2 separate regions of the Homo sapiens genome follow, and region 2 is linked to region 1. The links come from fine-mapping of genetic effects on plasma protein levels. Region 1 holds a variant in brackets. A gene starts in the other region. All regions are shown on their reverse strands.

Region 1 (2,893 bases):
ACCCCGTCTCTACCAAAAATACAAAAATTAGCCGGATGTGGTGGTGCATGCCTGTAATCCCAGCTACTCGAGAGGCTGAGGCAAGATGATCACTTGAACTCGGGAGGTGGAGGTTGCCGTGAGCTGAGATTGTGCCACCGCACTCCAGCCTGGACGACAGAGTGAGACTCCATCTCAAAAGCAAAAACAAAACAAAAAGAAAAAAACCAACAACAAGAAGCCAAAAACCAAAAAACGTACAGGACAGTGAGAGGGGAAAGAGAAAACCTGAGGAGTGTCCTGGACATTGGGGCCTTATGTCCCCCACAACACGGGACTGCCTCTTGGGGGTTCTTAAGAGTACTCAGTGGTACAGGGAGGCTCCTGAATGGCTTGGAGAATAACTGCCTTGGTCTGGGCATCGTGTAGTGCATCCCCACCCCAGGCTGGGCGCGCCTCCCTCTCAGGTGTCAGGGAGGAGAGCTGTGTGCAGGAAGCCCCCTTCCACCTCCCCCAGCCTCCCTAAGGGGCTCAGAGAGAGTGGGGTGTGGATTTGGCTGGTGAATGGGAGTCCCCCACTCCATTTCTCACTTTGCCTGGGGAGGCTCCAGCGTTGCAGCGGTCCCACTTCTGCTTGCTGGAGTCCCTAAGTCCCTGGCCTTGCCGAGGGCCTTCCCCTATGGAGGTCTTTCCCGTTTTGGCATTGCGCAAGGCCTGCAGCTGCCTCCCTGACCAGCCTCTGGGTTGGACAGTAGAGCTGAGGCTTTGGGAAAGAGGAAGCAGCCCCTGATACGGGATCCTTCTCTCTTGAGCCGGCAGAGCCCTGGGGAGCCAGCTGCACCAGGAGCTCTTGGCCGTCCTTCCTGTTCTCCTCTCCGCAGGTCCAGCACCGCCGCAGCCACTTCCTTCTGTGGAGCAGGTACCCCTGTCCCTGGTCCCTGGGCCCAGAGGGTGAGTGGAGCATTAGGAGCGGGGCTGGGCTGAAACTGGCTGAGCGGGATAGGGGCAGGGGTCGGGGGGGGGCTCCATCTGGGTGCGAGTGGTGGACCCCAAACCAACCCAAGTCCAAGACACTAATCAAAGATGGACTCAACTGAAACCCTTCCACCACCCCCAAATCCTTCCAACCTGCATCCCAATCCCAGTCCCGACCATCACCCTGCTCTGACCCTACCTCAGCCCCAGCCCCAGCCCCTATTCCAACCTTATCTCACCCTCACCTCACTTGCACCCCAACCCTAACCATTTACTCATCTCATCTAATCCCAACCATCCATCATCCCAACCCTAACCACAACTCCGACTCTATCATCCTCATCTCAACCCAGCCTCCACCGTATCTTAACCATCACCTGCACCCAACTCCAACCTTCACCCTTACCCCCACCCATCACTCAACCTCAATGTCCACCCCAATCCCAGCCTTAATTTGCTTCCAGAATTCCAACCTGATCATCACCCTGACCTCAGCCCCAGCCCAGCCCAACGATAATCTCTCCTTACTCTAACCCCAGCACAATTCCACTTCATCCATCACCACTTCGTCCGTCCACAGGAGGGCTTCTGGTGCTGTCCAGCACAGTTTGGAGAGTGAGCACTCCAGCCAGAAGCATTTAGAGCCAGATTAAGGAATGAAGTGTGAAATTTCTACTGCCCATGTCAAAGCCAATAAGCATTAGTTATGGATTCT[A/G]TGGCTCTGAGAATTAAACATTTGGCCTGTGATTGGGGATTTCCACTATTTTGACCATAATCTGCTCCAGGAATTGCCCATCCGTACCCTGACTCCCTATCTGTGGGCCAGTAACCTCCAGCTGGCCATGTCACCCTGTGTTCTTCCTTCTCTAGCCCAATGGGGAAGTTGGGGAGAAGCCTTGGTGTCAGGAAACAGAAACTGAATCCTACACCCGGGCCTAGCTGTCCATAGGGAAACTGCCTCTGCCCTTTCTTCCCCAGCTAAACTTGGCCTCTGGAATCAGAGGTCAGGGACTTGGGGCCCCAGCCAACCCTCCAAGACCTCCTGAGGCACTTGGTCTCAAACAGGCAGCAAACGTGAGTGCCCACTGTGTACCAGGCCAGCTCAAGCCACCCTGATGCAACACATACCAATAGTAGGAGTGGGGATTTAAAATCCTGTCTTCAGAGCACCCAAGACTTGGAGACCCAAGTATGAACCTCAGGAACCTCCTGTCTGGGGAACAATGATTTCCAAAAGAGTCACCCAAGGGAGGGATGGTTCAGGGCTGCAGAGCTGCCTGCTCCCTGTTGCTGGCACACCGCCCCCTTTCCCGGGACCCGCAATTCCCCCTCGACCACCAGGGGGCGCTGCGTGCTCACTAGGCCACAGCTGCAACCCAAGTTGCGGGGGGCGGGGGGCGGGGCACTGTCCCCTCAACTCCAGGCTTTCAAACAGGGACAGAGATCTCCTTTCTGAGCGGTCCCTGCTCTTTCTGTTTCCAGAACAGTTATCTGGGCTGAAGCTGGCCTTTGTGGTGACAGGCTGAGCCAATAGGCTGGATTCCGGTGGGGCTGACCCCTTTGGGGTTAGGGCCGGGCTAAGCATAGGTGGCCTCTACATTATGTGATGGGAGTGGTCCTGGAAAGGGTCCTCCCCCGCGCCCTGTTCCAGGGTCGCTGTGTCCAGAACCCCACCATTCTTCCATCAGGTTCACGATTGCCCTTTTCAGGACCCCAAATGGGAGGAACAGGGGAGCTGGGACAAGATAGCTGCCCTGGCCATAGCAGAGCTGACCCTGACATCCCCTGTGGCCAGGGACACATCTGACCCCCAGTGTGCCCAGCAGGCTGCTTTTCTTCACGGTGAGGTGTCCAGGTCCCAGGGCCCCAGCTATATCATTCTCCAGTGGCCAAGAACCTGGTGTGGAGGCTGGGGGTGCATCTTCCCAGAAGAGGAGGA
Region 2 (2,893 bases), not on the chromosome of region 1:
AGGTCCCTCTCCCCTCGGTGGGGGCAGGAGGGCACGCTGGGTGGGGGTTGGCAGGGCAGTCCCTCTCCCCTCGGGGGGGGCAGGAGGGCACGCTGGGTGGGGGTTGGCAGGGCAGTCCCCTGGGCTCACCATGTGTCACCAGGGGCTCCTCCGTGCTGGGGCTCAGCTCCAGCAACAGCCCTGGCCAGGGAGCCCCATCCAGGGGAGATGTTGAGTCGTCCCTGGAGTTAGCCACACGCTGACCTGCGGCGGGGGGGCAGGGACAGAAGCTATGAGGAGAGGAGGGGAATCCAGGCCATTTGGGTCCCTGGAAGAGGGAGTTAGCCACCTGGCTTTGGAGGGGATGGGAGGTTGGGTGTCTCTGAACTGCTGAACACTCAGACTTGCTGGGGCTAAGGACTTGGGGTTCCTGGGTCATCTCCAAAGGAGCTCCCCCTGAAGGAGCAGCCAGGGTGTCCTCACCTGCGCAGACGACGCCCGCGTCCTCCTCGTGGGAGCAGATGTGGGCCTTCCAGCCCCGGTGGTGGCAGAGGCCCAGCTGCCCCTCGTTGCCCCGGCAAGCCAGCTCGCTGAGCCACACAGGCCCTGCCCCCTCCCCGAAGAAGGCGCCTCCCGGGGCGGCCAGTGCCCCTCCGCAGCCCAGCTGCCGGCAGGCCACGGCGGCATCGCGCAGGTCCCAGCCGTCATCACACACGGTGCCCCAGCGCCCGCCATGCCAGACCTCCAGGCGGCCAGCGCACCCATGGGGGCCATCGGCCAGGCGCAGGCGCTCTGAGGGTTGGAGGAATGGCTGTGACTGGGGAGGGGCATCCTGGGGGCCCCAAGGCCAGGGCAACTGTAGGGGCAGGTGGCTGTCCTGCAGGTACTGTCTGTAGGCCAGTGGCCCTGCTCACTGGCCCCTGGGCCCAGACTCCTGGGTGCTCAGAGAGATGCGGCCAGACACCTGGGGGATTCCCTTGCGGAGCTGGGGCCAAGGTCACAGTGGAATTCGGATGGGCCGGGGACCCAGTGGGGGTGAGGCCAGGCCTGGATGGGCAGAAGGGGGAGGCCTGGGGGGGGGGGCGGGCAGATGGGAGGAGTCTGGGCACTTACCAACAGCCTGGATCCCCACCAGGGCCGCTGGAAGGGAGGGCGGAGGGTGGGGCAGTGTGAGGGGCAGGCCGGGGGTGGCCCTTTCTCCAGCGCAGGCCCCTCATCTTGAATACCCCAACACACACACACACACACACACACACACACACACACACACACATGGGCTTGGCTAAAGGTCAGATGTCTGGGAGATCCCCCGCAGGGTCAGGGCTGGGGGGCGGGCAGGGGGCAGGTCCCTTGGGCTTCTGGGCTGGCAGAAGGCTGGGCAGATTGAGCAGGGATCCTCAGAAGGGATGTCAGGGTATGCAGGAGCACCAGCGACCAGTCCCGGAAGTTTGAGTCCCTAAACTGGACAAGCTAAGGGGTCAGAGGTGGGGGCCTAGGCCCCCCGAGTCCCCAAGGAGAATGGATCACTCACCAAGGAGGCAGGCCAAGACCCTCATGGTTGCAGCCAGGGCAGGGGATGGGGTGAAAGGGGAAGGAGAGCGGGGAGAGAAGAGGAGGAGGCAGCTGGGGAGAGAGGGAGGGAGGGAAGTGCCTGCTGGAGGCGCCCAGGCCCGAGGAGGAGCAGGCAGGGCTGGACGCTTTGCCAGGAGGAAGAAAGAGGCTGCAGGGAGGCGGCAGGGGACGGTGGGGGGGAGGGGGGGCGGGAGGGGGCTGGCCGTCTGCTGAGGCATGGGGGGGAGGGGGGTGGCGGGCGGGAGGGAGGGTGTCCAACTGCAGACACCCACACGGGAGATGGAGACGACGGCCAGGCAGGCTCCAGCCAGCAAAGTGCTGTGCCCAGAGATGCTTAGGGGGTGGCCGGCTGCAGGAAGGCACAGGACAGGGGTTGGGGGACGTGTGCGGGGGGGGCGCAGCATGAGCGGGAGGGGCGCCCACCTGCTGTCTCCCCTCTTGTCTGGTCAGGGAAATCCAGTGAGACCACTGCTAGGGTTGGGGGCTGGGCAGACCTGGGGTTCTTGGTGCAGCAGCAAGAAGATTTGCAGCCAGACACCAGGAGGGACTTCCTGGGTTAGGAAAAGAGACTGAAAGACCCGGCCCTCCAGTCCTCCCACTCACTGGTGGATCTGAGTGTGAAGCCCCCAGTCCCCAGCTGAGAGAGGAGAGGTTGAACTTCACTGTCCCAGAGGGAGCTGGGGTCGGGGGATAAGCAGCACAAGGGTCAAGGCTTGGGAAGGGGAGGGGCTCCACACACTCTTCCACACACTCACACACACACACACACACCCCACTGCCTGCACACCAGGCAGCTGTGAGGCGGAAAAAATTCGGTAATGGGGAGCGTGACTCAGAAGGGCTGGCAGGGCCTCGGGCTGCCCCTGAGCTCACAGCCTCCCCTTCTCCCAGTCCAGCACCGTCCCCCAACAATTAATGTTAACTGGGGAAAGGAGAAGCCAGACAGAAATGGGCGGGGGTGTCCGGAGACAGACTGGGAAAGCCATCAGAGAAGAGACAGGCACACAGCGGTTTCAGGCTTTATTAACAAACGGTGTAAAAAACCAGACGGATCTGGAGGAAGGGACAGGGCTGCCCGTCTCAGCTCTCAACCTTCCCAGAGAGGGGCCAGGCCTGGCAGCCCTGTGCGTCGCGCCTCCTAAGCAGTCAACCTTGTCCCCTCCAAGGACAGGCATCTGACCCAATCCAGGTCCCAGGGAGGCGGAGTCGCAAACCCTAACTCTGGGGTGTATTCTGCTCGGCCTCCTCTCCCCCTCCCCAGATAGCTCTCCCAGCCTGGGGCACGGACAGCACAGACTTTGCAGACATCACCCGGGGAGGTTTCTCAGTGCAGACAGGAGCT

Alleles and levels. Alleles are on the strand shown, and positions count from the first base shown. The strength of an association depends on the size of the effect and on how common the allele is.
For the plasma level of the protein whose gene starts at base 1,689 in region 2, G is the high allele of the variant in region 1 and A is the other (strong association).

Evidence for each region. PIP is the posterior inclusion probability: the model's chance that the variant is causal. The UK Biobank Pharma Proteomics Project read protein levels with antibody pairs (Olink). The fine-mapping took linkage between variants from a reference panel, not from the people measured, so its PIPs are less certain.
Region 2: it holds the start of SSC5D, and the variant in region 1 is fine-mapped to the plasma level of the SSC5D protein (UK Biobank, PIP above 0.99).

The regions. Positions count from the first base shown.
Region 1 is chr20:3,710,475-3,713,367 of GRCh38, reverse strand. SIGLEC1 (sialic acid binding Ig like lectin 1) reads left to right here and starts at 768. Exons shown (of 22, transcript NM_023068.4): 1 at 768-898. The variant A/G (reference allele first, on the strand shown) is at 1,670.
Region 2 is chr19:55,487,232-55,490,124 of GRCh38, reverse strand. SSC5D (scavenger receptor cysteine rich family member with 5 domains) reads right to left here and starts at 1,689. Exons shown (of 14, transcript NM_001144950.2): 1 at 1,511-1,689; 2 at 1,093-1,119; 3 at 463-771; 4 at 130-243. The coding sequence starts at 1,535. NAT14 (N-acetyltransferase 14 (putative)) reads right to left here. Exons shown (of 3, transcript NM_020378.4): 3 at 2,559-2,893.